Linked DNA regions of Homo sapiens. The protein of the gene in region 2 interacts with the protein of the main gene of each other region in a biochemical or structural test. Each region holds a gene or a part of one and is shown on either strand. Other genes may lie near its edges.

What was found. The genes of interacting proteins can lie anywhere in the genome.
Region 1: the proteins of MFAP2 (region 2) and FBN1 form a complex in vitro, tested with the Homo sapiens proteins (one study listed by BioGRID).
Region 3: the proteins of MFAP2 (region 2) and COL4A3 form a complex in vitro, tested with the Homo sapiens proteins (one study listed by BioGRID).

What each region holds. Positions count from the first base shown.
Region 1 is NC_000015.10:48,642,710-48,650,419, forward strand, and holds the start of FBN1 (fibrillin-1 isoform a preproprotein), read right to left. Parts: upstream 3,001-7,710; 5' UTR 2,866-3,000; intron 2,262-2,865; exon of another isoform or gene 2,242-2,261; 5' UTR 2,061-2,241; coding exon 1,897-2,060; intron 393-1,896; coding exon of another isoform or gene 326-392; exon of another isoform or gene 1-325.
Region 2 is NC_000001.11:16,977,270-16,984,662, reverse strand, and holds the start of MFAP2 (microfibrillar-associated protein 2 isoform a precursor), read left to right. Parts: upstream 1-4,042; 5' UTR 4,043-4,076; intron 4,077-6,348; 5' UTR 6,349-6,389; coding exon 6,390-6,426; intron 6,427-6,867; exon of another isoform or gene 6,868-6,994; intron 6,995-7,393. UniProt on the Homo sapiens protein: Component of the elastin-associated microfibrils.
Region 3 is NC_000002.12:227,279,624-227,286,623, reverse strand, and holds part of COL4A3 (collagen alpha-3(IV) chain precursor), read right to left. Parts: intron 6,832-7,000; coding exon 6,734-6,831; intron 6,185-6,733; coding exon 6,034-6,184; intron 5,732-6,033; coding exon 5,618-5,731; intron 4,921-5,617; exon of another isoform or gene 4,835-4,920; intron 4,260-4,834; coding exon 4,092-4,259; intron 2,858-4,091; coding exon 2,768-2,857; intron 2,414-2,767; coding exon 2,279-2,413; intron 1-2,278. UniProt on the Homo sapiens protein: Type IV collagen is the major structural component of glomerular basement membranes (GBM), forming a 'chicken-wire' meshwork together with laminins, proteoglycans and entactin/nidogen.

The DNA.
Region 1 (7,710 bases), on a different chromosome or scaffold from region 2:
TTATTATAAAATCTTATAATTAACATGAGAATTAGGAACACACATAATTACAATTCTATTAATACCCTGTTTTTAGGAAGGCTTTATAAATAGTTTACAATAGGATAAGGTCTGTGTTAATGATCAAATACTGTGAGGAGCACAGAGAGGTATCTCTCTATAATCACAAACAAATTTAAAACCAGAGAGAAAAAGCACAAGTGTGAGTAAAAGTGTGGCATCCTGTTAAGCAACAAAGTAAAGCTTAGTTTCTTTTTTCACATTCCCAAGGGAACACACTAGTTGGTGACAGCCCAGAGAAATGAGACAAATGTCTGACCAGGCCTCACACCTCTCTGCAGATCTTCAGCCACAGAATTAAATCCCCACGTCCTTTATATACAGGAGCAATCCTATCAGAATAGATATTAAGATATTATTATGTAGGAGAAATGTATTTTTGAAGGAAAAATACTGGACTAAATGAGGTCCTCTTGAGAACATATGAAAATCAGAGCCTCAGTCTACTTATTGAACTTGCCATGTGCCTTGCACACAGGGCAATAAACATCTGCTGTCTGATCAAGGTCAGGTTTACCATGATAAGCAAACTTCCTTCCAACATTATCGGAATTCTGGGTTTATTTTCCACGAAGGCCAAGATGGAACCGAATTAATCATAACTATTTTCTGTGCTATTTTATCACAGCCTAAGTGCTTGGCTCATACAATCATCTTGTCCTTACTCCAGACTAGGAGTCAAAAACTGGTCTGGTGAGTTTACTTTTTCTTCTCATATCTGGGCCATACAAACACAAATTTTACTACATATACATGACTATAACACCTCATAACAAAAAAAGAGTAAGTGAAATGAACAGCCACATATCCAAGTGGATACCATCACTTGGTGACCCAGAGCTATATAATAAAGCTACAGAACCACTCAGGAAAAGAGCATCAGCGAGAATGGTAAGAATTTAATACAAAATCTCCCTATATATACTGTCTGAATTTATTTAACAGGCTCCTCCAAGAAGATAAAAGGGGTCACTGACAGTCCATCCTGTTGTTTCCATGGAGGCTTTAACTTAAACAACTGCAGACAAATTTCTCTTAAAGGAAATGTATTCCCACTGTCCTTCAATACAGGAAAATGACAACCCTTAGTCAAGTCTAATTAAAATTTTTCCGGCTGAAACATCTGTAACAGCGGCATGGGAAGCCAGTGAAATGGTCAGTTGCATGTACACAACACAAACACCACTAGTTAAAAATACTCCCTTAAGGCCGGCCACAGCAGCCTTACTGCTGCAGTGAAACGGAGAGCCCCACACAACTCAAAAAACCAGTTCTCAGAACCACTTGCCCTGTTCTGCTTCCAATGTAGACATCTAAAGGAAGCATTGCCCAGAAAACCCAATCCGTAATTTTAATAAGCATAATTTACGGAAGAGTCAACTACTGTGTGATTTCTCCTCTGACTGTCATGGGAATCCCTTCCTTTCCTTGCCCCCTTTCAAATACAGCATCTACCAAGATGACCCCAAGGAAAGTACTTTCCTCTAGAAACAACCAGAATTGATATTGCAGGGAAAGGAACGGGCTTCTCCTCTTATCCCACTCGCAACTCCTCCCCTTCTTCCCCAAGGAACTCTTCTCGCCTCCCAAAATCTGCCTCAACAATGGCCCAAGATTCCATTTAACCACGTCCTCTCCTTTGGGGCAGAAATCTCTGGGAGTAGGGGCAAGGTAGTTTAACCACGAACGGGGTGGGGACTAAACAACCCTAGCACCTCTAAGGTGCCCCCAGGAGGTCTTGCCAAGGAGTCTTCCACAGGGAGAGTCATCCTGCCCGTTGTTCTGGATCTTGAAACTTGGGAGACCCACACCAAAGGAGGGAACCGGTTCCTTTACCCTTTAAGCGCGTCGTGTCCTCCACCGCCTCTTCTCTTGGCCCGACTGGCTCTGGTTTCCTTCACGTTCCCAGCCTCCAAATTGGCGTCCGCCCCATGGCTCGTGTAGGACGCTAAAAGCACGGTAAATCCCAGGGCGATCTCCAGCAGACGCCCTCGACGCATGATGCCGAGCCGCCACCGGCTCCCGCCGCCTCTTGCCGCGCCCGGGGCTCGGTCTGCGGCCGCCGCTGCGCCCTGAAGCGCACCGCGCCGCCGGGGTCCCGCTATCCCGCCGCCCGTCCCCCGGGCCGGGCTCCTCCCGCCTTCTCCAGGCGCTGCTCCCACTTCAGGCGGCCCCTGCCAGCTGCAACACAGAGACAAATCCCCGAGGCGGGGAGACTTTCAGGGCATCGGGATGCTGAAGCCTCGCGGTCCCCATTCCCAAGCCCAACCCGTGCGCCGCCTGCGCGTGGCGCAGTTAATTTGGGTAAGGGAAGACCGTTTGGTCCACAGCTGGCTGGAAAGCCCAGGCCCCCGGCGGCAGCAGCCCCGGCCGATCCCTCGGCCTCCCGGGCCCCGCCAGAAGAGCGCGGCGCAAAGTACCCATATCCCCAGCGGTCCTAAGCCCCGGGCGAGCTCTCTGGGTTTATTTTTTTTAGCGGCACGAATTGCGCGCGATGCGCGCTCTGAACGCCCCACTCCTCAGCCTGCCCTCTCCGCCAGGCTGGAAGCCAGCCGCGCCGTCCCCGCCGACTCCGGGCGATGCCACCGCCCCCCGAACATCTGACGCGGAGCCCGGCACCAAGAGCCCCGGGCCAGGAAGCTGTCAGGCAGGGGAGGGCCAGCGCCAGCTGTGGACGTTCCGGGACAGCCCCTCACCCCAGTCCCTGTCCCTGCCCTCGGCGCGGCGCAAACGCAAAAGCCTCCGTGGCCGCAGCTCCAGCCCCGGTGGCCGCCCGACCCCCGTCGGGACCCCGGCTGCACCCACTGGAGAAGCGGCGGCTCCGACTCCCGAGGAGGCGGCGGCGGCTGCTCCCAGTCGTGGCCGCTACAGCCACTGCTCGGCTCCGCTCGCAGCTGTCCCAGCTGTGGCTCCTGTCCGCTTGTGGCACCCACAGTCTCTGCCGCGGCTCCCGCAGCCCCCTCCTTTCCCCACCTCTTCAAGTATCGTCCGCGCAGCGGTTTCTCGCGAGAGAAATACTTTTTTTAAAAAAAGAAAGAAAAAGAAAATGACACCCCCTCCTTCGTCGCCCTCATCACCACCCCACCCCCCGGCCCCATCCATCCTCCCTTTCCACTCCCCTTTGCCAGCCTCCGCCTCGGTGCGGGGCCTCTCGCTCGCAGGATTAGCGCAGTGGGAGGAGGCAGAGGTGATCAGGTCCTGCCCGGCCTGGGACTTTTTGTCTTGAGGTGGGGAGGGGAGAAATGGGAAGAGGTGGAGTAGCGGTTTTAGCCCGCTCTGCGGCTGCGAGGTTTAGATCCGAGATTAACCTCTCCCGCGATAGGTGAAGCCCTACCGGAGCAGAAAGCTGTTCCACCTGCACCAAGAATGCGCGCTGGAGACGGTTGCCCCGGAGGCCCTGGCCCGAGAGAAAACCAGTCCCCGCTGCCCGCGCCTCCCGGTAGCGCGCTCCCTGCGCCTCTCCCGCCGGACACTCAGCAGACGCCGGAGGCCGGGAGGCTAAGACTGGGCGCGTCGCAGGCCGGGACCGCGGCAGAGGCTGCTGTGCCGACCGAGGAGAGGGCTCTGCCGCCCCCACTTGCCCTGGGTGTCGAGAGCCCACTCCAGACGCGGCTCTTCTGAGGCTCAATTCAAGCCACCCAGGCCTGAATCCAGGGTGCTCTCTCTAAGTCGGTGTCCAACCCAGGGGCCTGTAAATGTTGGAACCTAGGATGTAGGATGGGAGCGGTGAAGGGATGGTCCTCTTGCCCAGCCCAGATTAAGACTGGGGTTCATCTGGAGGACTCTACTTACACCCTCCCGGTCCCCTCGCCCTCCCCCACACACAGCTGCCTCTCCCCAGGATATGCGCGGCACAGTGAATTTAGTGGCTTTGAAAGGTATAGTATTTGTGGCATCCTTATATGGATAATGCCCAATGATGCCTGCACCCTGTAACAGTTTAGGAAGGCCTGAAGTCGCACACTGGGTCCTGGCTGCTGTAACTGGAGACCCCCAGAAGATCCCCTGCAAGCAGCCACCAGCCTGCTGTCAAGCCAATAATAAAAGCTCAGCACAAACAGGTACCCTGGGAATGTATCTTGTTGAAAGGGATTTTCCTTATTTGTAACCGTTTGTAAAGGGGCCCAGACAGTAGGGTAGAGAGACCTGGGCAAGTTATTCAACTTCTTTCCAAATACAAGATGGGACTTGTAGTGTCCACCACACAGGGTTGTAATGGTGATGATGGACATGCTGAACTGCTGTGATACATGAAGATGAAACAGAAAAACTGTGGGAACTATGAGCTGATCTAAAGCCATAGTCCTGTAAGTATGTATGTGGTGTACTTTAAGGTCTCACCTGCAAAAGGTCTCTTAGCAGATTCATGAATGAGAGCCTTGGTCACACACTCCTGGCTGAGTAAAGGAGATCATTCATTCAAGATGTTTTTACTGAGCACGAACTGTGTACTACTTAGTGCATTGTTGAACTAGACTTCAACAATTTTAACAAGGCAGGTTCAACAATTTGAACACGACTGACTTCAACAATTTAGTGAAAAGGGCAGAAATGTGTCTCCCCTCACACAGCAGGTAGTCAACAAGGAAAGGCAGACTTGAAACAAATAATGGACCAATTGTTAAGCGCCAAACAGGATAAGTACTGGGTGCTTGCTTGGAGGATATATAACAAGGGGACTTGACCTAGGCTAGGGCTGATCAGGAAAGGGATCCCTGAGGAAGTGATATTTAACTTAAGTCTAAAACATAACTAGACTCTACTTAGGATAGCAGTTCTCAACCCTGGCTATGCAGTAAAATAATAAGAGGCTTTAAAAAAATTCTGACACCAGGATGGGCATGGTGGCTCATGCCTGGGCCTGTAATCCCAGCACTTTGGGAGACCAAGGCGGGTGGATCACTTTAGACCAGTAGTTCAATAGCAGCCCGACCAACATTGTGAAACCCTGTCTCTACTAAAAATACAAAAATTAGCCAGGTGTGGTGGTGCATGCCTGTAAATCTTGCTACTCAGGAGGCTGAGGCACTAGAATCGCTTGAACCTGAGAGGTAGAGATTGCAGTGAGAGGAGATTGTGCCACTGCACTACAGCCTGGGCAGAACAGAGTGAAACTCTGCCTCAAAAAAAAAAAAAAAAAAAAAAAATCTGACACTGACACCAGGCCCCAACACCCAGAGTTTCTGATTTGAGTAGTCTGTAGTGGATTCTTCACATGGATATTTTTTAAAGCTCCCTGGGTAGGGAGGGGTAAGGAGGTAATTCACACTGGGAAAAGGATCTGAGCAGAGGGACCATGGATTAGGAGAAAGCAGGGCTGTTGGACATCCAGAAAGGCCTTGTCCTGCCCACCAGTTTTCTGGGCTGCTCTGCACCCACAGGGGACTCTGGAAACTGCATGCTTTCCTTGTACTCCAGCAGCATGCAAGACATGCTGTGCCCTTTCTCTCAGAATCTTACACTCAGTGACATGTTGGTCAGCAGCAACCAAACACAAGCCTTTTCTAAGGCTTCTGCCCAGGAAGTAAAGGCCAAATCCTGGTGCCCTGCAAGTCCCCTCTTCCAACATTTCTGGACATTTCTATTATTTCTAACTCAAACTGCCTTCCAGGGTTTCACCTCCAAGGGAGGGATTTGGATTAAACGTTTTTACCTGGCCTTTGCTTTCCCCGGCAACCTCCTCTTTATTCATTGGCCTCTTTCTCCAATAAAGGAAAGATTCTTCCTTCATATTGGGTGGCAGCTCCAAGCCATATACTCCCCTCTTTGAGCAATAAGTCTCATGTTCTGACCACAATGGTGGAAGATTACAGGGGAAGGGGAAGCAGGGGGAACTTGATTACTTAAAAGTAAATACATTTTAAATATACAAGAACTATTCCCGCTATCTAGGCAATCAACATGTATTAGAGTAGCATGCTACTTATGACAAAATTCAGTAACGAATAATAAAAATCTGTGTCTTTGCAATAAGATTTTCTTGATGCCAGATGATTGAGGACCCAACTCTCCTTAAACCTATCACAGACTTTTTTTTTTTTTTTCGTAATAGGTTGTTTTGCACTGTTTGCAAATTAAGTCCATGGGCTAGAATTCCTTGCTTCCATCTCCTTATTTCAAAGAATTCTATTCACCCTAAGAAACCTTGCTCAGATTCCTTCTTGTTCGTAGGTGTTTTAGCTCATGCCCATCTCTCTTGTTCTAACATCATTGCACTTATTAACTGAATCATTCACTTAATAGTTAATACATAATTATAGTATGCCTACTATATGCCAAGTGCCATGTCAGGCACTGGACATTAGGGATATTTCTTCTGTTGCTATAGTGAACTATTAGGTTGGCACAAAAGTAATTGCAGTTTTTGCCATTTAAAAGTACTAGCAAAACCGCAATTACTTTGGCGTCAACCTAAATATATATTTTTTTTCTGTAGCCATTGTACTTACTCCCCCTAGCTGTATGATAGATCCTTAAAGACAAGGTGGCATTCCTTATTCAAGGAAACTTGCTAGTGTCCTGAAAACTATGACAAAACACAAATACTTTGTTTGTTGTTGGATCAATTGAAATCTTTCTTTTTTTTTTTTTTTTTTTTGAGACAGTGTCTCGCTTTGTCACCCAGGCTGGAGTGCAGTGGCGCGATCTCGGCTCACTGCAAGCTCCACCTCTGGGATTCACGTCATTCTCCTGCCTCAGCCTCCCAAGTAGCTGGGAATACAGGCACCTGCCACCATGCCTGGCTAATTTTTTTGTATTTTTAGTAGAGATGGGGTTTCACCGTGTTAACCAGGATGATCAATTGAAATCTTGTGGCATTTTCAGCTTCAAGCCACTCTCATCATTTTATACCTCCTGTATAAATATCTATGTCAGCAAGGGTTCTTTGTCTACAAGCAAGAAAACTAGCTATGGAAAATTTCAGCAAAAAAAAAGATATTTTAAGTATTATCAGGTTATGAGATGGCTCATTGAACTTGACTTTGTGATAAAATGGGGAGTAGTACAGTTCTGGGATAATGGTAAGCAGAGAACCTCTTCAGGCTGATGTCATGTGAGTAAATCAATTCCAACCATTTTCATCTTTTTGCCACCCCTCTTGGAGTTCAAATTCAAAGGACAGGGTCCTTTTGACGTAGCTATTTAGGGAACTTGGGCACAATCCTGGCCAAAGGATGATGGAGTATCTTGATGGATAGTCCCAACAAGATTGCATGCCATGGGAAAAGGGTTCATCTATAAAAGATGGGCAAAACACTATTTTGGTCATGCACCAAAAATTGAAGGGCATTAATGCTTGTCAGGAGAAAAAAAAAAAATCCAGATGTCCATTACATCATCTCAAGAACTCTCAAGATGTTTAGAGCTTACTGAAATAAAGCATTTTCAAGCTTTACTTGGAAGAAGCATACTCTAAAATCAGCTTCTACGTCTTCCTTTGCAAACTAAATCATGACTTCACAAAAAGCTAACTAGACTTTCATGTAGCCTCAGTTCCTGCCATTGATGGTGGCAAATAGATCACTCATGATACAACCAACTATATCTTCAAAAATTGGCTTCTGACTTTTAGTGAGTATTGTAGAATTTTGTAGTTATAAAAATGTAATGCATATATCACAGCTACCAGAAACCATACCTATTTATATA
Region 2 (7,393 bases):
ACAGAGAGGCCTGGGTTCAAATCCCTCCTCTACCCTTAGCTGATTATTCATGAATCTGTTGGACAGGTGTGTGCCAGGCACCAGGACTAACTCAACAAACTGAATAAAACGGGACAAAAACATGGTCTAACCCTGCGAGCAGTTCACCATCCAGCGTGAAAGCCTGGCAGGGAAGGAGCACATCTCCAAAGACGTAGTGGGAGCACAGCAACCACAGCCCCATCCCCTCCCCTGCCCAAAGAAACAGCCAGGGGAATGGGTAGAAGCAGCAGAGAGGACATGGGAGCCAGGACACGAATTGTCAGCTTTAGCCCCTCAGTTTCCCAGTTTTTCTTTTCTTTTCTTTTTTTTTTTTCAGACAGGGTCTTGCTCTGTTGCCCAGGCTGGAGTGCAGTGGTGCAATCGTGGCTCACTGCAGCCTCTACCTCCCCAGGCTCAGGTGATCCTCCTACCTCAACCTCCTGAGTAGCTGGGACTATAGGCCAGCACCACCACACCCAGCTAATTTTTGTATTTTTTGTAGAGATGGGGTTTTGCCATGCTGTCCAGGCTGGTCTCAAACCCCTGGGCTCAAGCGGTCCACCCGCCTTGGTCTCCTAAACTGCTGAGATTACAGGTGTGAGCCACTGCACCCAACCTCCCTCCTTTTTTCAAGGGTAGGGGACAGCATTTCTGCTGGGTGAGTTCCTCTCTTTTGCCAGTGGGATTGCTCCTGGCAGCAGTGGGGTCTAAGGGCAGGCAGAGAGGGCTGGGCTGGCCTGGCCTGAGGGCCCACCTCTCTCCAGGTGACAAAAGTCTCTGCTGCCCTGCAATAGACACTGGGGGGCGGGGCATGGGAATGAAGGAGGCACAGGGCATATTTACTCCCTCCCTAAGACTCAGAGTCTAAGGGAGGTGGGGGAATGACTGGCGATGAAGAGATCAGATGGCAAGGGTCTAAATCAGGGGCCATCCTCATCTCCTCCCAGCCCGCAGCCCCTACAACTCTCACTCCCGCCTCAGGCCTAGGCTCCTGGGCAGGGCTGAAGGCTGCCCCTCACGCAGAGGATCTGCACCCCCAGCCAGCTTCTCCGGGAAGAGTTTAGTGTACAGTTCACTCATTCATTCCACCAATGTTTGCTGAACTGCTGCTCTGAGCCGGGCTCTGAACTTAATGAGCAAAACTGAAGATGAGCAAAAACAGCCTTGGTCCTGGCCTTCACGGGGCAAGATGACAGTCTCATCGGGAAGAGGGACAGGGCTCAGATGGTCACAGACATAGGCCAACAAGACAACTGCAAGCAGTAAAGCTAGAAAGCACAAAAAAAGGAAAAAGGGAAGGCCCCTCTGAGGAAGGGAGGGTTTGATCTGTGACCCCATGGAGGAGACCTCAGCCAGTGCTCGGGAGGAAGAAACGCCTCAGTGTGGGAGGGAGAGGGGTTTGGGAGAAAACCCCCAAAGGCCAGTGGCTGGAGGAGGAAGAGGAGGCAGAGCCAGGCTGCCATAAAGGGCCGGGGCCCTGGAAGCCACAGGGAAGTTGAGCCTCTAACCTGAGTGAAAGGCGATCAGTAGAAGGGGCACGATCTGCGGGGGTGAGGGAGGCAGGACCCACGTGGGAGAGCCCAGAGTGGAGGCTATCGCAGAGCCCAGGCAAATGATGGTGGTGTCAACTAAATAAGAAATCAGCCTTTTGACCAGGTGCAGTGGCTCACGCCTGTAATTCCAGCACTTTGGGAGGCCAAGGTGGGTGGATCAGCTGAGGTCAGGAGTACGAGACGAGCCTGGACAACATGGAGAAGCCTCGTCTCTACGAGAAATAAAAAAAAAAAAAAAAATAGCCAGGCATGGTGGTGGGTGCCTGTAGTCCCCACTACTCTGGAGGCTGAGGCATGAGAATCGCTTGAACCCAGGAGGCAGAGGTTGCAGTGAGTTGAGGATGCACCACTGCACTCCAGCCTGGGAGATAGCAAGACCCTGTCTCAAAAAAAAAGAAAAAGAAAAAATCCACCTTTTGGCCAGGCACAGTGGCTCATGCCTATAATCCCAGCACTTTGGGAACCCAAGGCAGGCGGATCAGCTAAGGTCAGGAGCCTGGCCAACATGGTGAAACCCTGTCTCTACTCAAAAAAAAAAAGCAAAAATTAGCCTGGCATGCTGGCATGTGCCTGTAATCCCAGCTACCCGAGAGGCTGGGTTGGGAGAACCTCTTGAACCCGGGAGGTGGAGGTTACAGGGAGCCGAGGTCACACCACTGCACTCCAGCCTGGGCAACAGAGTTAAACTCCATTTCAAAAAAAAAAAAAAAATCAGCCATTGAAAAAATTAAAGTTAGTTTTATTGAGTCTTACTGAGGACTGCACCCTGGGAGAGGGTTTCAGAGAGTTTCTGTTAGACTGCGCCAAAGCAGCATTTCAGCCCACAGTTTAGATACAGAGGCAGGCGGTTCTGTGTGTGCTCAGAAGCTATGGTCAGGCACGGTGGCTCACGTCCGTAATCCCAGCACTTTTGGAGGCTGAGGCGGGTGGATTGCTTGAGCTCAGGAGTTTGAGACCAGACTGGGCAAACACGGCAAAACCCCTTCTCTACAAAAAATACAAAAAAAAAAAAAAAAAAAAAAAATTAGCCAGGCATGGCGGCTCTTGCCTGTAGTCCCAGCTACTTGGGAGGCTGAGGTGGAAGGATCACTTGAGCCCAAGAGGTGAGCTGTGATGGTGCCACTGCACTCCAGCCTGGATGACAGAGCGAGACCCGGTCTCATTAAAAAAAGAAGAAGAAAAATTTACATCAAATGTCTTCAGAAGCTACACTAGTGCAAATCTCGCCAAGGTTTGGGTTCGAGGATGCACCTAGTTATATAGATTATAGAGGCATAATCGTCAATCCTGTCAGGTGCTATCTTATGTACAGGAAAAGGCACAGCCAGGATCATTTAACTTATATTTTCTAACAATGCAGTGATTCAGGCAAGAGGCGTGGGAGCCTGTGTTCTGCCCTGCCTGCCATCTTCAAGGCATCCTTCCGTTGGGCTGCCCCCAGTCACTGAGTCAGGGCTTTGTCAGCTTCTGACAAGCAGAAAGAGCAAATGCGGTTTCTTGGGATTGCAACTTGGTCTCACAGTGGCTTAGGCCAGGGTGGGAGCAGTGAACGGAGTCACAAAAGAAATTTTTCAGGTAGCATTCACGGGTGGGTGCTGGATTAGATGCAGGGCTAAGGGCAGGGGAGGAAGCCTGGGTAATGGAAGGCTGCGGGGCCAAGGGGGGACTGGGAATCCTGGAGGGCCAGGTCTGGGGGAGAGTTAGGAGGTCGTGAATTTGGACTTGGATGCTTGTTGAAGCTGATGCATCTTGAGGACATTTGTGGGACACATAGGCTGGGTCAGGGCTGAAAGAGGTGCTGGTTATGGCCGGGGGCAGGGACTCATGCCTGTAATCCCAACAGCCCAGGAGGATGAGACAGGAGGAATGCTTGAGGCCAAAATTTCGAGGCCGGAAGTTCCAGACGAGCCTGGGCAACACAGCAAGACCCTGTCTCTAGAAAAGGAAAGAAAGAACCGCTGGTTGTGGAAGCCAGCCATGGCCCAGAGCTCAGCAGTGTAGGAGAGGAGGGTGCGGGCCTGAGAGAGGCAGCAGGCTTGGCTGGAGAGGCAGAAGGAAAACCAAGGCAGGAGAGTGTCCTGGAAGCTGGGAGAAGGCAGAGGGAGATCGAGGCTTACTTTCTGGCTGAGGGGCCTAGGGTGAGTCACTTTGGGAGGCTTGATTTCCTCCTCTGTGAAATGGGCAACACACCTACCCTTGCCCACCTCACCCCCCTCACCCCGTCGACGTCGAGTGAGGAGCAGCTGTGAGGAGGAGGAAGCTTTGCACAGACGTGAGGACGGCCCCGGGCGCCTCTACCCCGGGGACACCCCCCCCCCCAGGAGATGGAACCCCGAGGGCACGGCGTGGCGGCCCATGCGGGCAGCTCGCGTTAGGACCCAGCGGCTCCGGGGCTGGAGGGCGGGCGCCAGCCCCGTCGGGGGCCCGGAGGGGGACTCGGAGCGGGCCAAGGGGCGGCTCCGGCGGGCGGACTCGGAGCGGGCGGCGGAGTGACCCGGACAGGTAGGCGCGGGCCTGGCGCTTGGGGGCCCCGGGGGGCGGTCAGGGGCGTCGGCGGGTCCCCCGGCGCGGGGGCGAGGGTGCCAGGCTCTCTGGGTCCTCGATCCTGGGGCAGCCGCGGAGGTTCCTGAACCCCGCGCCTTCAGAGCGGAGGCCAAGGGGGCACCTGGAAAGTTTGGGGTTGCTCTGCAGAGAGAACGCGAATTGGGAAGGGCGGGGAGCCCGAGTTTGGGGGGAGCCAGAGGTGAGGTCGTCGGGGGATGGGACATCTTTTGTTCTCCCGGGGAGGTTGGAATGTGGCGGGTGGGGTGGGGGGGGGGGGTCCGGTGGGAATGGCCGAGACAGAGACGCAGAGAGACAAAGAGAGATCAGAGACGGGAGCGCGAGGGCGCGCGGAGCAAGTTTCCGCGGCTGATTGTTCCCAGCTGTGCGGCGCTGCAACATCTGGGTTTCTCCCGCCGGGACCCCTCCCCCTGAGCCCGGCTCTGGAGCCGGCAGAGCCCTCCCTCCGTCTGATGTCTGAGCGAGCGTCGGGGCCCCCTGTCCCCCACCTCCCAGGACGCAGGGGAGTCGGGGGTGGGGGAGGCCGCAGCTGTGGAAGAGGCCAGAGGTGGGGGTGGGGCAGCCTCCCAGGCAGGTCCTGGCCTCCCGCACGCCCCAAAACCCCTTCGTCTAGAAGAGCTCGGAGATGTGGTCCCGTGGGAGGAGTTCATGAACTCCACACTGACTTCTCTCTTTCCTGCCTCCCCGCTAGCCCGTGGGCCTCCTTCCCCCAATAAGCCTGGGTTCGGGGGCCAGTCCTAGGGGAGGAAGACTCCCCGCAGGGTACCGACAGGCATCCCCCAACACCTTGCAACCCCTCTTGCCCCAATTCAGCGCCTTCTGCTGAGCAGCGGGGGCTCCGACCGACCTGACGGATGGGGAGAAGGGCAAGGAAGGCTCTCTGGGTCTTTTCATCCCCCTCCCATGAGGAGGTCAAGGGTTTTCAGAATGGGGTGTGGGGAGCCAGCTATCCCTCGCCTCTGGGGCAGCTTGGTCCTGAGCTTCGTCTCCCGGCTCCCACTCCACCTTAGTGAGGTGCCTAATGCATGAGAGGAGCCAGGGGGTCAGGAGGCCTCAGGATTGAGAGGAAGGAGGGAAAGACCTCCTGCTTTCTCCCCTTTCCCTCCCCTCTCCCTGGACTCCCAGTGGGGAAAATAGACCAAAGTTGGGGTTTCCAGCTAGCTCTCTGAAAGGACTTCCTGGGTTGCAGCCGGGAGGGGCCCTCCTGGATGGACCCCGCCCTCGCAGCCCTCCCTACAGAAGGCTGACGGACCTGAGGTGGCCCTCCACTGAGCTGGGGCTGGATGTGGGGAACCGGAGGCTCCCCCAAGTCCCACCGTGTAGCCAGGACTGGAGGCTGGGCTCTTGAATGTCAGGAGCCTGATGAAAGCCACGGACCCCATGCCCTCTCCCTCCAAATGACACACACACTTGCCTACAGTGTCAGGGGGTGCAGAACCCCCAGCCTGGGTGATGTCACGGCCCCTTCAGTGCTGCCTTTCTGGGATCCAGAGGAGCCCCCTCAGGCTTCACTCTCGTGCTTCCTGCTGCTGCAAATAGCCCGGGTCTCGTGAGCCTGTGATGCACACAGCCAGGTCTTGCGAGGCCTGGAGGCCTGGCAGGAGAGGAGTCTTCTGGGAGCTGGGAGCCCTGCCCGGCCTGGCCGCTCTGGGGGCCGGGCAGGCCCATGTGTATGTGGTTTCCTGCTGAGCAGGATGCTTAGGGCCCAGGGGCTAATTGGGAGCAGGTGGTGGCTTGGCAGAAGCTGCTGAGTCCAGGCGGTGATGCCGGCTGGCCAGGGCTGGGGTCCCAAGGATGGGCCTGGGTTCAGTGATTCACGCAGTCAGTGCCTTGGACACCCAGGGAGCCACTGGGCCAGAGGGCTGAGCACGGGTGTGGGTGAGGACAGAATGGCCTGGGCTGGGAGCACATTAGGAATGTCCCCTTAGTGAGCAGGGCAGGGTCCGCCCTTCCCTGACCACATCAAGTACACCCACTACACGGGGTTTGCTTGTCAGGATCAGCCCTGGAGCTGGGTTGGAGGCCTTGTCCCTTGTGACCTGAACACCTGGGTGGGCCAGCAGGGACTGGGATGTCCCTCCACTCCAGCCCTCCCATGCCTGGCTTCTATTCTGGGTGCCACCTTCTCCAGGGCGAAATCAGGGGATCAAAGGTGAGCTCTGCTGTCCTGGGTGTGGCCCTGGGTAGAGCTCTCCCACCGGTCTTTCCCCAGCTGTCCTCTCTGACACCACCCCGGCCTGCCTCTTTGTTGCCATGAGAGCTGCCTACCTCTTCCTGCTATTCCTGCCTGGTAAGTGGCTCCTGGGGCAGGGGGTAGCTCCTCTTATGTGGGGCTGAGGAGTAGGGTTAGTAGGGGGAATTCATAGTGAGCCTTTGTCACGACTTATGACCAGAACTCAGCTCCCCAGCTCCCAGGGCCTTCTGCCTGCTTGGACCACAGACTGGACCAGCCAACCCTGGCAGCATCTGGAGGCAGCTCCTGGCCCTTCCCCCAGCCTTCCACAGCAGCAGGCAGGCAGGGTTCTGGAGGGCACGTCCCAGGCACAAGGACTCCGTGGGCACAAGGCACAAGGCCTCTCTGGGAGCCGATGTGCAGGTGCAGGGGCACCCAAGGCAGGGAGTCCGGATGCTTGAGTTCTAGATCCATTCAGGGCCCTTCTGCTCTATACAGTCCTGACCTTGTGGGGGTCCCTACTGGCCAAATGAAGAGAATCAATGAGGACCACAAAAGTCCTAGCAGGGCCAACATTCATTCATTCAGCAGCGATGTGTTGAGTCCCTACCACGTGCCAAGTGCTGGGCTAGGCCCTGGGGATTCAGCGATGAACCAGGCAGACACATCGTTGCTCCTCATCATGCTGCCAGTCCAGGGAAGGGAGACAAATAGGAAACAAGCAGACATGAGAAACTCCAGCATGTGCTGAGTGCTGGACAGAAATCAGCAGGAGGGCTGGTGGGCTGGAGGTGGGGCGGCATCTTGGCACAGCTGAAATTCCAGGGAAGACCTGAAGGAGCTGAGCAGGCCTCACAGGCCCAGGGAGTGTCAGGTGCAAAGGCTCTGAGGGAGGCAGGAGCATGTGGAGTCCTAGGAGCAGCCAGGAGGCCAGCAACAGGAAGGGGCAGGGTAAGGTCAGGGAGGTGACCCATGACCAGGGTGGGGAAGGGTCTTTACCATCGAAGAAGAGTCTGGATCCTCTAGGAATCTGCTTGTGGGGTCCTAGGCTCTTATGGGCCTGACCTTGTGACCCCCGCCTCCA
Region 3 (7,000 bases), on a different chromosome or scaffold from region 2:
CCCATCTCTGCCATTTCCTATCAGAGTGTCATTGGGCAAGTAACTTGACCTCCCTATTTCCCCGTATGTAAAATGGGATGATTGCAATAGTAGTACCTACTCCTAGGGTTATGTATTTATTTATTTTTTGAGACAGAGCCTCACTCTGTTGCCCAGGTTGGAGTGCAGTGGCACAATCTCAGCTCATTGCAACCTCTGCCTCTCAGGTTCAAGCGATTCTCATGCCTCAGCCTCCTGACTAGCTGGAATTACAGGCTCCCCACCCCGCCCACCCTGGCTAATTTTTGTATATTTAGTAGAGATGGGGTTTTGCCATGTTGGCCAGGCTGGTCTCGAACTCCTGACCTCAGGTGATCCACCCGCCTTGGCCTCCCAAAATACTGGGATTACAGCCGTGAGCCACTGTGCCCAGCCTACTCCTAGGGTTATTGTGAGGATTAAATGAGTCAATAGTTGTAAAACTTGGAACAGTACCTGCACATGGTAAATGCTACTTAGGTCGTTGTTAAATAATATAGCATGCTAATTTGCACCTCGCGTCTTTATTATCTTTTTCTACATATGCCTAAGTCTGCCACGCAGCCTCCTTGTGGAGAGGATAGTGACTTGTTATTGTGCTTCTCTGTATATTCAATATCTCTTCCACATTTGAAGTGAATAGCTTTAAGTCAGAAATTCAGATTTAGAAAAATAAATGGATCATATTGAAATTAGGGAGGCCTAGATACAGGTTATTTTTTTGTTGTTCTTCAATCTGTGTCCCTTGGTTATGCATTTGAAAAGCCTAAAGAAAACATACAGAACAGCCTCGATGCATACTGTACTTAGGGTGAGTAAAAGAGTTTTGTTGGAAGTATAGAAATAGCCCCATATCATGTGTCCTTCTGTACTTTACAAAAGGAATTCTTCAATTGCAAATTAGTACTCACTGCGCATTTATACTGTGAGCGCCAAATTTCTGCTTATGTAGGCAGAGATATGCTATTCATATTTTTTCCAAAATGTTTCTAACACTACTTAAATAATCTAAAATAGTCTAGTGAAGTGGTGTCTATGCAGACAGTTTATGAGGACTGGAGATTGGTGCCAGTATTTTTTTTTTTCATATCTTGGCTTAGACTAGTCCTAGCAGAGTTTTATAAAAGTCGCATTACTTTCTTTTTCATTGCTAAAAATGAAATGCAATATTCTTTTTGTACCAGAACTAAAGTGTCTCTTCAACACCAGGTTAGATGAGGACTATGTACATAGAAGGCCTTTACTTCCTAACTTGCCAGTTAGTCAGCCTTTATATTGTAGTCTACAGCACCCTGTGCAAATTTTTTTTTTTTTTTTTTTTTTTTTTTAGGTTTGGCAGTACATGTGAAGGTTTGTTACATCCTCATGTGCCATGCATATAAATATTTGTTGAACACAGTCTCATTTCTCAAAAGTCATTTCAAATATCTCAAAACTTAACATGGTTTTGCAACTGCAAACACATTTTTCTTTTTTCCTTTCTTGCCATGATACATTTTTCTTTTATTCCTTTCCTGCTATGAGAGTCTGATCTGCAAATGTAATATTTTACCCAGCAGTTCTCTGTTTTTCTAAAGTTGCTTGGGATTACATTTGGTCAAGAAGACTGCAAGGGAGGGCTTCTGAAAATTTGGTTTTATATTGGTCGTATTGATCATATCATGAAAACTGCCATAAAAAGGGCCCAAATAACTTGAAATAATGTGAATGGGTTTGAATTTTAGCCTAGTAGCCACATCTAACAACAGTCTTTCTAAAGGGTTAAATTTTCATTGAAGCATTTCTTTTTAGTAATTATTCTCCAAAGGATTTTGAACAGGAGAAGAAGTTTTTAGATAGAATCAGAAAATATTATTCTGGTAGTCTACAGAATAAAGTTGAATTTGAGATGGAGGTTTCAACATCAGCCAGAAAAGTTTTTTAATGTGGAATTTTTTTAAGGGTTTAATTTTCCCCATACTTGGCAAAGAGGGAGTTTTGAGGCTTATAATTTAAAAACTGACTGCTGATGATTTAAATATAGCAAATTAAAATGCAGAATTAACTTAGAAATAAAAATGTTACACATCGAGGAGGCAACATGTCGTGGAAGGTGACTCAGTTCTAAGGCCTGCTCAGCCACCAACCGGCTGTGTGATGGGCAGGTAACTAAACACTGGCCCTCACTGTCCTTATTTGTCAACCAAACGGATTTGCCTGGATAATTTATTAGCCTGAGAATCAGCTCTGATGTCCTGATTCCAAACAAGCAATTCTTTACCTTTGAGACCTGGTTCTCCTTTGTCCCCTATTACGTGGGATATCTCTGAAGGCCCGGGATTTCCTTTATCTCCTTGTTCCCCCTTGGCTCCTGGGGTTCCTCTCTGGCCCTTTACTCCTGGAATTCCAGGGCTCCCTAACAGACAGGAGTAACAACATCAGGTCCTTAATTCTTCAGGTAGTTCATAGGGATTAAAAAGTTGGCAGTGCTTACTATAAAACAGAACAAATCAAACAAAAAAGGCTAACAGTGCTGAGAACTTGATAAATAGTTTCCCCAGGCAGGCAGCCTCATAAGGGTAGTGGTGTAAGCCTACAGAAAACAGGATTCCATTCAAATGGAGAAAAGGAACATAGAAAACAGCAAAATCAAATACTGTTGCTCTCTCAGAACTATTTTTCCCTCCAATGAAACATAACTTTTTTTGCTGCAAAATAAATGAACATTGTTTATGCTTCCTGCTATTTAGAAAGACACTCTATCACTTACCCCTCTGCCCTGGTGTGCCTGGGTTCCCAGGGGGCCCTGGAGGGCCAATGGCTCCAGGAAAGCCCATCATCCCAATCACTCCATCTTCACCTATGGAAACAAATTAACACAAAGCAGCACGTGTTGTACAGAGTGAGAAAAGCAAAATATTCCATATACTAAAATAAATTATACTTAGAAGCAGAGATTGGGAGTTGAAAAAATGGCCTCTGTACATAGTACAATTACTGTATTAGTCTAGGAGATGGGTCGGTAAGTGGTCTTTTAAACTCACCTATGTGGAAGTGATTGGTAGCAAATCATATTCATGGATGAGGATAGCATATGTGGAAGTTTTGGAGCATTCCATCCTCCCAGCCCCTGACCAGTCACTTTCTATTCTATCCCTTCACTTTATTTTCTTCATAACACTTGTCTCAAATTGAACTTAGATTTTAAATATTTCTATTATTGATCCTCTACTATGAGAAGGGGAGACTTGTCCACTGACTGATGTGTCTCTAGGGCCTAGAAGAATGCTGGCATGTGATAGTAGCCCAATAACATGAATGAAAGGATAATGTGTCGATTAAGTTGTTTTAGGCTCTTTTCCAGAGGGGAGATCGGTGAGGTCCTTATGCCATGAGGGAACAGAATATTCTCCCCAAACATATAAACAATAAACATAGCCATGAAATTAAAACAATTATACAGAAATATGATGAACAACAACAACAAATCAGATAACTTATAAAAATGGACAAGTTTCTAGAGAAACAGAATACCAAAACTGACTCCAGAAGAAATAGAAAACCTGAATATACCTATAAGAAATGAAGAGATTGAATTAGTCATTTAGAGACTTCCCAAAAAGAAATGCCCAGACCCAGATAACTTCACTGGTGAATTCTACCAAATGTTTAAAGAGCGTCGATTCTTCACAAACTGTTCCAGAAAATACAAGAGGAGGAAACACTTCCCAGCTTGTTCCATCAGACCAGCATTACTCTGACACCAACACCAAAGACATCACAAGAACGCTACAGACCAATATCCCTTCTCAATATAAATGCAAAAATTCTCAACAAAATACTAGCAAGTATATTATAGTAGTCGTATATAAAAAGGATTACACAGCAAAAATAGCCACATTCTGGGTAATTGTTCATCCTGCCGCCACCGTTTCCCTGCACCATGGCCCCTGGTTTCTTACAAATAATTTAGAAGGAAAACCTTATATTAAGTAAAAGCATAGAGTAAAAAGCGTATGCCTATGTACAGTTGACAGAGCCACCTTAAGAAGAAGAAGAAATAAGAAGAAAAATAGAAACACACAAAAGGATACCTGGTGGCCCTAAAATTCCCGGATTTCCTGGATATCCTCTTTGACCCAGTGGTCCCATTTCACCTTGATGACCTGGAATTCCTGGTGATCCAGTTTCTCCAGGAAATCCTGATCTATCCAAGCCTGGAATTCCTGGGTCTCCCTTTGGCCCCGTTTTACCTCTTCTGCCTGTGTACGAATAAATGAATGAATTAATTAACCCACAAATGCTTTCCCCTACTAACTTCAGAAATATATATATATATATATATATATATTTTTAAGATGGAATCTCCCTCTGTCTTCTAGGCTGGATTGCAGTGGGGCGATTTCGGCTCACTGTACCCTCCGCCTCCCTGGTTCAAGTGATTCTCCTGCGTCAGCCTCCCAAATAGCTGGGACTACAGGCGTGCACCATAATGCATAGCTAAGTTTTGTATTTTTAATAGAGATGGGGTTTTGCCATGTTGGCCAGGCTGGTCTCAAACTCCTGACCTCAAATGATCCGCCCACCTCGGCCTCCCATAGTGCTGGGATTACAGGCATGAGCCACTGCACCCGGCCACTTTAGAAATATTTTATGGCTGTAAATATTTAGCTTTGTGATTTGGGGTAACTGCACACTTACGCATGCGTGCGCATGTGTGTGTGTATGTATTTAATGTCCCCTCTGTAAAATTTCTGAGCTCCCTTCTGGCTCTAACATTCTCTGCTCCAATGATTTATGCAGTAATACAAGTGTAGTCTTTATATCTATTTTCTAGTCCTGCAGACACATTCTGGGACTGCACCTTATGAGTGCTGCTCACTCTGTTTCCTGCAGAAGACATACAGAGCCGTTCGCATAGAGGTAAGCCACTGGATGCCTCTGGAAAAAATAATAATGCCACTGTAACAGTTAAGGTCTTGGTCAAAAATTTATTTGTGAACATATAAGCAGTATGATAGACCACAGACATTAACTGATTTCTAAATACATTTTTCCAGGAACAGTTCATCAGATCTGATGAGGAGAGGATCCAAAAACAAAGTTTTCCATCATCTGGAACATCTAGCCTGCATCATTTAGATTTATTTTCATGTTTTTTCTTTTATATTGTATGTAAAACAATCAACTACATATTTTAGTTTATAAGTTTTTAAACTGGTATCATTGCATACATTTACCCTATTTTAATAATAAGGATAAACTTACCACTTTAATATATTTATGAAAATATTAAAGGTAAAATGTTTTCTGAGAATTTAATATGTATATAAATATATGTAAACACACACCAATCTCTGTCTTCAGCATTCATATTTTTCTTGCATAAAAGACACAAAGCAACTCACTATATTAACTTCAAGTTTCTTCCTTTATAGGTGGTACACACTACTGTGTGCAACAAACCCATAACAGCAAGGTTTACACTTCTGAAGTATTTCTCATTGAACAGTGGTCAGGACTTGTGGCTGGACAGTTCCCATGTTAAGCAGCAAAGCACAGAGCAGGAGTCTCATGTCTCCTGCCCTTCTGGTGGCCAGTTTTGAGGCCCTCCTCCTACCTTGTTGCCCTTTCAATCCATTTAAGCCTGGAAGTCCTTGGGCTCCCCTGGGACCCTCTATGCACCTTCCTGGGGGTCCTTGTTCTCCAGGTGGTCCAGGCTGCCCTGGATCTCCTGCAAAAGAAAGCACAAGTATATACCCAGGTGCTAGAACTTAAGGTCTTGGTATTGCTGTACCAGTCATTCTTCTGTTAACTTTTTTTCCACCTAAATCAGATCTATATTTACTGCCATTAATATGCCTTTTCTAGAGGGCACTCATTAAAAAAGAAGGAAGGAAGAAGGAAAGAAGGAAGAAAGGTAGGGCAGGAACATTGGATGGGAGAATTCTTCATGCCTAGAACACCTTCACATTCAGTTTGCTGCATTTTAGCAGAGCTCACAGTGGAGAAAAGTAATGACACTTGCTATTGTACCTCGTGGTCCATCAAGCCCTTCATTTCCTGGAGTTCCAGGGAGACCTGGAAGTCCAGGGAGTCCAATTTCTCCATGTTCCCCAGAATTGCCTCTTTCTCCTGGAAAACCTGGTGTTCCTGGTCCTCCAGGCATGGCTACTGCTGGTTCTCCCTACAGCATAGAAATTGTGTTATTACTATATAGTGCTTCCAAATCTTCACTGATATTGACTCTCTGTTATGGAGGCTCTAAGTCCCTGTTGCACAGCCACTACCATGTCATCAACTTTCCTTTTTGAGCTCTAGTTGCTGACTTTTCTGTAAGATTATGTTTAATAATACTTCAGGATATGTAGCCTCCACTTTTTCAGAAGACTGTGGGATTGTCTATAAAGAGAAAAATCTAGATGTTTTTACTTTTGATAGTTTTTCTTATAGCTAACCACATTTCTTTCTAGAGTTGTCCCATTTTAAATACTCTGATTATTTATGAAACCATTAAAGATGATATCACGATGAAATCTGCATTCTGACACCTTATGTTTTCCTTTCTAAAATGGAAGATGATCCAGAGAAACATTTAAAAAATTTAATATCTTCATCATCTACAAATATATTGATCATTTCTACATCTAGAGTGCTCTGCCAGATAAGTGCATACAAACTGGCCAGTTAATGGTCACCCACCCTCTCTTCTGTGATAGCTTGAATTTTTGCATACCTTGGCTCCTGGGAGGCCTGGCTTTCCAGGTAACCCAGGCTCTCCCATTTTTCCAGGACAACCCAGTGATCCTTTTGTACCTGGAAAACCTTGGTCTCCTACAGAGAAAAAACAATAAACATTGTTGTAGGATTAGTCTTATTGAAATATTCTGAGCAGTAACTCTCTTATCTCTCAACCAGCTAGAGATGCTTTTATGAAAATTTAAATGATAATAAAACCAACTGATAAATTAGCAATTTTTTAAAAGTTCCAAATCAAATTACA